Linked DNA regions of Homo sapiens: region 2 is reported to be linked to region 1. Evidence: microRNA targets listed by miRTarBase, many of them from high-throughput screens and not tested one by one. Region 1 holds a microRNA gene; the other region holds the end of a gene's coding sequence.
The links. The annotated mature microRNA hsa-miR-3150a-3p reads CUGGGGAGAUCCUCGAGGUUGG and lies in region 1 at 2,428-2,449, opposite strand. An mRNA with a match to its seed (bases 2 to 7 or 8) in the 3' UTR can be bound and repressed. Matches are read on the target gene's strand: a 7mer-m8 pairs with bases 2 to 8, a 7mer-A1 pairs with bases 2 to 7 and ends in A, and an 8mer does both.

Region 2: the mRNA of NAT10 is a reported target of hsa-miR-3150a-3p. The part of its 3' UTR that is shown has no 7-base or 8-base seed match.

What each region holds. Positions count from the first base shown.
Region 1 is chr8:95,070,178-95,075,410 of GRCh38, reverse strand. It overlaps MIR3150A (microRNA 3150a), which reads right to left and starts at 2,497; the gene lies at 2,418-2,497. MIR3150BHG (MIR3150B host gene) reads left to right here and starts at 2,229. Exons shown (of 2, transcript NR_132986.1): 1 at 2,229-2,482. It overlaps MIR3150B (microRNA 3150b), which reads left to right and starts at 2,415; the gene lies at 2,415-2,500. LOC124901980 (a long non-coding RNA gene) reads left to right here and starts at 3,158. Exons shown (of 2, transcript XR_007061013.1): 1 at 3,158-3,665; 2 at 4,594-4,762. It also overlaps a transcript of NDUFAF6 not described here. RefSeq lists a silencer at 1,923-2,022.
Region 2 is chr11:34,145,305-34,150,304 of GRCh38, forward strand. It overlaps NAT10 (N-acetyltransferase 10), which reads left to right. Exons shown (of 29, transcript NM_024662.3): 29 at 780-1,604. The coding sequence ends at 888. Among named protein-coding and RNA genes, the nearest start is that of NAT10, 42 kb to the left of the region's middle. RefSeq lists enhancers at 137-306, 4,616-5,000.

The DNA.
Region 1 (5,233 bases):
TGGTGACCTGACAGACTGAATTTTCCTGTATGGTCCTAATTTTATTTAATGTATTTTTTTCTTAATAAAGATGATTTTAAGTGTATAACTAAAAATGACATTATTGTATGCTTTTGTAAATTTCATCTGAATGAATGAATTCACATATCTGAAAGTCATTTGTCACGTCTTGTGTCCATGGTTTAGAAACCTGGTGTATTGCTCCATTTTAGAGCACGCTAGAAAAATCAGCAGGAATCTCTGGACTGTTCTGTCATTTGAGCTCTTTCATTTGTCTGTTGACCCACATGAATGGGATCCTTGTGACCCTGGGTTCTGCTTGTCAGCTGTCCAAGTCTGGGCCGTTGTTGACCTACCAACAATCAGTGAGGGATGTGTTTGCTTACCAATTGAGAAATAATGTTTTTCACGTTAGACTCTATTTGAGGGGTGGGGTTGCTGGCTGCCTGATAATCATTCCTGCTTTCTTTGAATGAAATTTTTGAGGTTGTAAAAGAAGGAATTTGGAGTTTGCAAAGCCTAATCATAACATGAGGCCCTTGATCTAAGGGCTCTCCAATGGGCAGTGGCAGGTGGGATCGCTGGAAGGAGGAATCTAAGGACAGGAAACCAGTGAGGAAGTAAATGTAACAGAGAAAATCCACATCTGGGATTAGACAACAGCAGTGAGAGTGGAGAGGAAGAGATGAGTCTGAGAAACAGTGAACAAGGAATCCACAGAACTTGGTGACTAAGTGGAGGGACAGAGAAAAGAGGAGGGGGAAGTCAAAATGGCTAGATGGCTTCTAGTCTGTGACAGAGGCAGAGGAAATGCTCTGCTATTCATAGAAATGGGGAAGTTAGGAGGTAGTGCATAAGGCTGTACAGTTTTAGACATAGGACATTGGAGGAGATGGAAAGTCATCTTCAGGTGGTTAGAAACCCAGGGCCACTTTTGGTTGGTGTTCAGGAAGGGAAGTGCAGAGAGGTGGAAATCTCAGCCACAGGTCAAACACTTCCCTGGCCCCAGATTAAAGACCAATCCAATTAAGCATGAGAGCACACGAGCCACACAAGTCGCACAAGTCAGTAACGAAAAGGACTCCCAGGTGATCTTAAGTCACATAATTAACATATTTTCAGGGCCCTACTTGTATGTGGCCCTGAAAACGTTGAGACTAATCAGCTGGAATATATCCATTTTTTTTTCTCCTTCTTTTTAAAACCTTATTATAGAGAATTTTAAAAATATACAAGAGTAGAAATAATTCTAGAACGAACTCCCATGTTTTCATTACCCAGCCTCAACAACGATCAAATCATAGCCAACCTTGTTCCATCCCAACCCTTACCCACTTCTCCCTGCGTTATTTTGAAGCTAATTCCAGACATAAATATTTCAGTCTGAATTTCTAAAAATAAGGACTCTATCCTTTAAAAATAAGCACAATGCCATTATCATGCCTTAAAAAATTAACTATGGTTTCTTATATCAAATATCAAGTCAGGTTCAAATTTCCACTAAAGTTTTAAGTTTCCATTAAAAGCAGTTGATTTGAATCAGGATTCAAATTAGGACATCAGGTTGGGATTGGTTGGCAGGTTTTAAAGTCTCTTTTACTCTTTGGGTTTCTCCCCTACCCTCTGGAGAGAGCTCCCCACACCGTGGCTTTGCTGACTGCATTCCTTGGGTGGACTTTCACTTGTGCCTCTGTCCTCGACATGTCCTGTAAGCTGGAAGCCGGGATCAGATTCAGATCCATTTTTATTTTAAGTGTTATGCAAAAAGACACCCAGTGAAGGTGTTAGAATGAGCCATGGCAGTGGATGGGGTTCGCAGGACCCCTGCGGAAGGGGGACGTTTAAGGGGCAAGCGGAAAAGGAGACACCTGGAATGGGGGAGGAGGAGCAGCGGGGCGAGGCGGGGGCGGTGCCGCGTGGTCTGCGAGCCCGGATATTCCCTGGGGAGCGCACCTGCGACTTCACCTCCAGTCCCTCCCCGGCTGGGGCAGCGGGGCGCGGGCGCTCGGGAGAGGTGGCGCTGCCTACTCGGCCTCATCTTGCTGAGAATGCGACGGGGCGACAGCTTCCTGTCTTTTCCAGTGGCTTTTGGCATCCCCAGAGGAAAAAACGGGGAGACCCGCTTTGGCCTCAGGAAGCGCAGAAACACTGTCCTGGCTGCGCGCGCAAGGGCGAGAACCTAGGGGACCCGCCTAAAGCGCCGTTGGGGCTGAGCACCGAACTCGCACAGCTCCGGGCAGCGACCCGCGATGCGGCATCCTTCCGTCCGGTCGGAGCCCTCCTAGCCCTCAGCGCGTCTATTCCTAGCTTCGGTCCCCGCAGCCATATAAGCAATGACACCCTCGCCGACTCGCCTGCCAGCTTGGCCGCCTCCCTGCAGAGGGCTGACGCTTCTCCAGAAGTTGTAAGAAAAGGAGGGAAAGCAGGCCAACCTCGAGGATCTCCCCAGCCTTGGCGTTCAGGTGCTGAGGAGATCGTCGAGGTTGGCCTGCTTCCCCTCACTCCTCGGGCCTTGCTCTTCCCCCAGGTGCCCACTGCCCTCCCTGCTGTGTACCACTTTCTTGCTGCCTGTGAAGGTATTTGTCCTCACTCTTGTGCTGCTCCTTCAATGATAGAACTTTGGGACTTTCTCATCCAGCAGCACCAGCCTGAAAAAGCAGTGGCTTGCACCACCACACACATACCTGGTCTCAGGTGGGTGGATCAGGGCAACTTGGCCACTAGTGCCCCAGTAATGCCCATCTGCCCAACCTCAATGCAGGAGCAACAAGTATTTCTCTGTCTTGGAGAGATCTAGAAAAAGGCTGAACATACCACGAGGGTGTTGCTTCAGAAGAAAATGCTGGTCAGGGTTCCAAGCCATCATAGGAACTTGTGAGCTGAGAAACATGGTCAACTCTACTCTCTCTCTCTTCTCTACCTACCCAGGCAGCCACAAATCTCAGTGTCAGTCACTGCTTTGGTTTGACATCTAAGGGCTCTGTTACAAGGGTAACTAAGATGAGTACCAGTAGATGCCCAATGACACTTGTAAACATGAAAGTGTATACCAGTATAAAGGATGCTGCAGCCTCAGCCTTGAAAAGTAAGGCTTTTAGGGAATGAAACAAAGGATAGTCAGGTTCTTAGGGGACAGGGAGGGTTCTGGCATGGGGAGCAGCCCTGGGCAGGTCTGGGGGTGCTGCGAAGTAGGGCACCGCAACATAACGGCCCTGTGTCTTAGGTGGCCAGGAAGGGGAAGGCAGGAGATACAGAAGGAAAGGAAACTAACATTTTATTGAGACAGGCATTGTGCTGGTCCTGAGGTTTATGCGAAGATTAATTTCTGGGGGTGAGAAGGTAAAAAATGATGAGGTGGAAACCAGCATCTTCTGTTACTCCCATCTGTGCAGAGTTAAAGAAGACTTGAAAGAAGGGGATGTGAGTGGCAGGAAAATCCCCAGTGACCGGCCCTGAACCTTCTGCCAGCGCAGCTCACCTCCTCCCCAAATGCCTCCCAATAGGATCTCAGCCCTAAACAAGCACAGGGCGTGGGGTGGTACAGATGATGATGTAGCTGCTTCTGAGATGCCCCTGGGCGCTGCTGGAGCTGAGCCCTGGGACTGGAATGACTTTTGCCCGCTGCCCTCAAAATTCCCACAGGCCACACCGCTACCACCTCTTGGGTAAAGTAGGAGGGACACATCTCCACCACCATCCAAATTGTTACCTAATGAGGAATTTTGCCAGGAACTACTTACAGCCCAATGGAGCCAGGCTGGGTATTTCCAGGACATGAGCCATTTTCTCTGTGCCCACTAAACAGGGTGCAGGTCCCTGAAGCCCTCAGGGAAGCTGCAAAGGTTACTGGGGTCGGCTCTGGGGCAACAGCTGACCTCTTAGCTCCCACTGCAGGCGTAGGAACCTCCAGGACAGCCTGTGGGGGTGGTGAGTCTGCAAAGCTGGCTGGCTAATGAGGGTGCAGTGCTGGTAGTGTCTGCCTTATGCTTTTTTTTTTTTTTTTTTTTCTTTTGGAGACGGAGTCTCGCTCTATCGCCCAGGCTGGAGTGCAGTGGTGAGATCTCGGCTCACTGCAAACTCCACCTCCCAGGTTCACGCCATTCTCCTGCCTCAGCCTCCCGAGTAGCTGGGACTACAGGCGCCCGCCACAATGCCCGGCTAATTTTTTTTTTTTTTGTATTTTTAGTAGAGACGGGTTTTCACCGTGTTAGCCAGGATGGTCTTGATTTCCTGACCTCGTGATCCGCCCACCTCAGCCTCCCAAAGTGCTGGGATTACAGGCTTGAGCCACCGCGCCCGGCCGGTTGCCTTATGCTTTAATATTAATCATATGGTATGAACACATGCAAAGCTAGCTGGTTTTACTGTTTAGGAAAGTAGATTTAATTTCTATGTGATCTGGATTATCACCATTATTATTTCCTTGGTATAGAAATTGCTTTTTACTGCTTGTGTTTTTCTAAAATTATATTCTCCCTCTGACCAAGGCAAGTAATAAAGGGCAGATGACTCGGGGAGGGGAGGGGAATAGGAAAAAAATCATGGGAGATATGCTTCAAAACCAATAGAGAGTTTTTCTGTTTTTAATTTCAGTTGAATTGCAAAGCAAAGACCCATAGAAGTGAACTGTGATACCAGAAATTCTCTGCCCAGCTTGAAGTTGTTGATATATTATAATCCTTATGTGTGACGTTAATGGTTTTAGTATATATTATCTGCCATCTAGCCTGTTTATTTCAAATATAGCTTCTGAATTCATGGATTTTTATGTGATTTTTGTTTTGTTTTATGTATATCTTTTTAATTTCATAATCCAAAGTGGAAAGAAACTCAACACTCATTTTTAGAAGCTCATTCTCTGAAGTTAGAAGAAGTAAAAATGTGTTTACTTTCTTAAATTTGTTTGATAACCTGAAATCTTAAAGCATCCAAGATGGAAAATATCAAATTTCAAAGCTTAATGTTAGCAATATTCCAAAAGATAAAATCTAGTGACCTGGTTTTCTCTGAAAGTGACACAGTATGTATATAAATAGATTAAAATGGCAAACACATATGTACACTTAGTAAGTGCCAGCCACTATTTTCGGCACTTTACAATTATTAACTAACTTAACCTTCATGATAATTCTAGGAAGTAGGCACTATCACTAGGCCATTTTACAGATGAGAAAATGAAGGCACGGAGAGGTTAAATGTAATAACTTGCTAGTGGTCAATCAGTAGGCAGTAG
Region 2 (5,000 bases), not on the chromosome of region 1:
GAACTTTGTGAGCTAAAAATACTGGTAGCTATCATTAAGTCCTCTGAGGCCTTTCTTTTTCTTCCTTTGAGAGGTACTTCATTCATATGATGTTAATGGTCTCTGGACTGAACTCTTCACGGTCTCCTTATAGGGAAGTATTTGTTCCCAGAGCAAAATTTAACCTGTAAGTTTCTTAATGGCAGGTGGCCGTTTGCTGAGTGATTCCTATGCCAGGATATCAATGAAGAATCCAGGGGCTGGTCGCAGGGTGTCACCTGAGTTACTGTTGTTTGGGTTTTCTTCTTCTCATATAGGAAAAATAAAATAATAGTAGCACATCAGAAAGTATGGCAGGGTTTTCCTTGGAGTCTCATGCCTTGTATTAAGGACTGTCTTCAGGGTCATTGGGATGAATATGTCTAGTTTCCAGAGTCACTGCAGTGGTGAGAGTGGTGGTGGGGAATCCTTGTGGTGCCTTAGGTCTGTCTTGGGAGAGGGGAGCAGAGTGTACTGCACCCTGAGGAGAACCCGGATTTCAGGTGTTAAGATCGAGATTTGTTCTTCCACAGACTAAGAGCTGGCTCAGGGCAGGAGCTGGTCTGTATGGTGTGTCCCCAGCCCCAGCACAATGCCTGCCCCCTAATAGGTTTGCAGAGAACATTAATGTCCAATTGGGTGGCCTACATCAAGTTTCAGACGGTGGAAACCCTTTTTGACAAAGCAAAGCAAGCTTAAAGCAGTCTCAGATGTTCAGATCTGTACATATTTCATTCTTTCTATTTTTGATTTTTCTCTAGTGACAAGAAAAGGAAGTTAGAGGCCAAACAAGAACCCAAACAGAGCAAGAAGTTGAAGAACAGAGAGACAAAGAACAAAAAAGATATGAAACTGAAGCGGAAGAAATAGTGAAGAGAAACTCGGGCATCTGTGTTTGATCATGGGAAGATACTCTCACTAACTGAACCCTCTCTGGCTGGACTGTTAAAAGCAACGAGAGGCCCCGGCACACCTGGAAGCTGGCCGCGAATTCGGCCTCTGGGCCTGTGTGTCTGTGAGCTCAACCTGGCTAAAGGCAGAGTCACTCCCAAATGGGTCTCTTTAGAACTTGATGGCTGGGCACTGCCATCTCTAGAATTGCCACGAGTCTCTCTCTTCCTGCCCAGTCCAGGGCCCTCCTTTCCTATAAGTTCATATTTTGCTTTGAGCCAGCTTTTTAGTCTCATTCCCACACATGTGGAAGCCACGTTGCCTCTCGACCGCCTGAGGCCCTTAAGTACATCGCTTTCTGGTGGTGCCCAGGAGGCTGCTGCTGGGCCGCTGGGTCTCTCTTTGTGGACTTGTACCTGGAGCAGGAGGAACTCCAGTCCGTCCCGGCATCCATGGCAGCCCGCGGTTAGGTGCGCCAGGGTTTGCTGATGTTGTCTTGTGCTGTTCCACTCTTGGCTCCAGCAGACCCACTGTCCCAGAAAAGCCTGATCCTGTAGTTTATGTAGAATGCCACATCTGCGTCCTCAAGACCTGTTTCATCCATTTGGGAAAAGATGTTGGGAAAGGCCACTTTGCTCGCAGGGGTGAGGGGAAGGATAGAGAATCTATTTTTAATAAATAACATTCTAGAAAGATCAGCTGCCTGTGAGTGTTCTGAAATCCACGCACCTGGACGTTTCTTCTGGTGGGTCTTGGCTGCCTGGTGGAATTTGGAAGGTGTTGGTATCAAGGTCAAAGGTGAGCAGTGTGTCTAGGGCTTCCCAGCCCAGGAGTCTGCGGGAGAAGTGGCAGGTGGCTATGGTCACCTCGAGGGGCTTGGTGTGGTGGCTGGAAGCCAGCTAGAACTGCCTCATTTCCTTCCCAGCTCCTTCCAGGTCACTTGGTCCCTTCCATTTGTTGGGAACAGAGGTAACCTGGTGGCTTTACACATACTTTGGTATGTTTGTTTAATGGTATCCAGGCTAATGAGTCTGCAGCCCCGATATGTTGTCTAGGTTCAGAGAAGGACAGGGAAGGAAACGGTAACTTCTCAGCCTAAGGGTATTTCATATACAGCTCCTAGGACTCGTCCCCACAGGGAGAAGAGCAGGTTCTGTATGCGACCCTAGGGCTGCTGAGGCTTGTCACCGAGGCTGTCAGGACATGAGCCTAGGGGTCTTTCGTTTCTTGGGACTGAAGTTTCCTGGCCACAGACCTCTGTTAGGTCTGTAGGAAATTTTGCTGGAGGCAGGGAGGGGGCATGAAAATAATTTTTATTTATTTTCTCAGGTGGGTGCCTGAACCTGCCTTTCAAAGAGGGTTTTCTTAGACCGTGGCCAGAAGCAGAGTCACATGCTCAAATGGTCAGAGCTGGATGGGACTGTGCAAGTTGTCCAGGCATATCATCCTACAGGTAAGGAAGCTTTTGTTTAGTGTCTCTACCCTCAAAGTCTCCCCGGCTGGCTCTGCTTTGGGGTGCAAGGTGAGGGCTCTGGAGGTAGACTGCTCTGCCCTGACGCTCACCGTGGCCTTGGGCAGGTTACTTCATCCTACCTGCCCTTCAGGTCCATTTCTGCAAAATTTGAGTGGTAGGAATAGCACCTCCGTCACGGGACTGTGGTGAGAAGTGGGTGGGGTAGAATGGGAAACGTTTAGAACAGTGCCTGGCACATAGCAAGTGCCTCTGGGTTCTGGGCACTCATCAGATCTAACTAGAGGAGCCGCTCAAGTTCAGTTACATGCCAGCTCTAAGAATACTCAATAAGGACTAGCTGTGGTGTTCTTTTGAAAACAGACAGGGTCTTGCTCTGTTGCCCAAGCTGGAGTGCGGTGGCTCAATCATAGCTCATTGCAGCTTTGAACTCTTGGGCTGAAGCCATTCTCCCACCTCAGCCTTCCAAGCAGCTGGGAAGGTGCTCACCACCACACCTGCCTAATTTTAAAAATTATGTACAGATGGAGTCTCAATATGTTGCCCAGGTTGGTCTGGAACTCTGGCCTCAAGTGATCCGCCTGGGCCTCCCAGAGTATAGGGATTAGAGGCATGAGCCACCACACTTGGCCAGGACTGGCCATGTTATAAAACCACAACCTAAGCTAGAAAAGGAGTCTCCCTTGGCCAGCGAAGAGCATGCATTTTGCAGTCAGACTTGTCTGGCTCTGTATAATATCTCTGTATCCTTGGACAAGGCCTCTTTATTTGCAAAGTGTGTGTTCCTAAACACACGCTTGGGTCTTTGCATTTTATGGTCATGATCTTGGGTTCTCCTTCAAACCTGAAAAGGCATGTCTCCCCCACACCTCACCATCTGGCCCCCAGACAGAGTGACATCTGTAAAGCTTGGCTGTCTTAGGAAATGTCACTTGCGAAATGAATTCAGATAGGCCAGCCATGAGTGCTGTCACCAGAAGGGGAAGAGCCTGAAGAAGCCTGAACAAAGAAGGTTACTAAATGGTCACCCCCCATACCCCCTCGCCAGGCGGGGCTAATGCCGGCCTGCTTCAGTGCTTCCACTGCTCATCTGGCCCGGAAGTCCCGGAGGACTCCGGATGACCAGGAGACGGGACACAAAGGGGGCCGCTGAGGCTGGGAGGTGGGGGAGGGGCAGAAATAAGTGACCGTCACCTTGGAAAAATGTAGACTCATTATCTGAGGCCTGTTACAACACCCGCAGCCATTCTGCAGGCCTGGAGGAGGGGGTGGGGTCGGAAGCCCCTTGGGCTGGAATAGACAATTTCAGGGGATTGCCCCTGAGGGGGCATGCCCTTGATTCTACAAACAATTGGTTCCAGTTAAACATCATCTGGATCCTGCAAAGCGGACTTGAAAGGCAGCCTGAAAGGGAGAGGCCGGGGCTTCCTGCTTGGGCTGGTTCCGTTGAGAAAGCTCTAGCCACCTGGTATCTGGCACGGGGACTAATGTGGAAAAGGATAACTGGCCTTCCAGGCCGAGAGCCTAAAGGAAAGCTTCAGGAGAAGATTTGAATGCAGGAAAGAAACCAGACAGCCTCAAAAAGGACAATCTCAGTGTTAGCCCTGTCGGTGCAGGAGCAGACTGGTACCTGCCACCTCTGGAGAGGTGTTTTCTTTGGAGACGGCTAAGGCGCCAGCTTATGCTTGCCTGTGGACCCACTGGAGCCGAGTGAAATCCCTGTAGATGCAACCCATGCTCACAGCACCTGGGTCCTCAAGGGCTCCAGTAAGAGGGTAACTCCCCCAAGCCTGCCTGTGGCTGCTCATAGCAGGCGGAGCAGGGCAGGCCGTGAGCAGTGGCCCGGAATTAGGAGGTCCAGCTGCCTGGGTAAGTGATCATTTCTGTTTGAGTCCTAGCCCCTTGGAAGCATGTCTGCTTTTTTTTGGTAATTATTTTAATTTTAAATGTTTATTCAAAAATGTATTCCTGCTACCCACAGGCTCCAAGGGGCCCGCTCCCTCCTTCCTACCTCCACTTTCTCTCAACCCCCCACTCACCCTCTCAAGAGAGGAAATGGTGGATCCCTCATCTGGAGCCAGAATGCAACTAGATCTTGCTTTCTAGGCTGGGTACGGACCAAGGCATGTCCTGCAGGGATGGGGGAACTTGTGGGGACGCTGGACACAGACCCATGAAGGGCAGCCACTTTGAATGGCAAGTGCTGGGGACGGACAGCCCGCTCCACCACCGTCTTGGGCCACTGCACAGGAAGATGGTGTGGGGGAGTGCGCCCCCTCCTAGTGGCCCCCAGAGGGCACCATGGGTCTGTGCGGCCACAGGTCCCCAGGCTGGGCCTCGAGCTGCCCTGCGCAGCTCCTGCTGGAATTGGGCTTTGCCAGGGACTGGGATCTTTATGTCGTTCCCCTAACGCCTGAGTCACGGCCGGTCACTGACCCACAGCCACTTTGGTTCAGGTTCTCAGTGACCTTAGGAATTTCTATACCTGTTTCAGGCAGGCAGGCAGGCGACTTTTTTTTTGAGAGAGAGTCTTGCTTTGTTGTCCAGGCTGAGGTGCAGGGGTGATCATAGCTCACTGCAGCCTCGAACCCCTGGGCTCTGTGATCCTCCCACCTCAGCC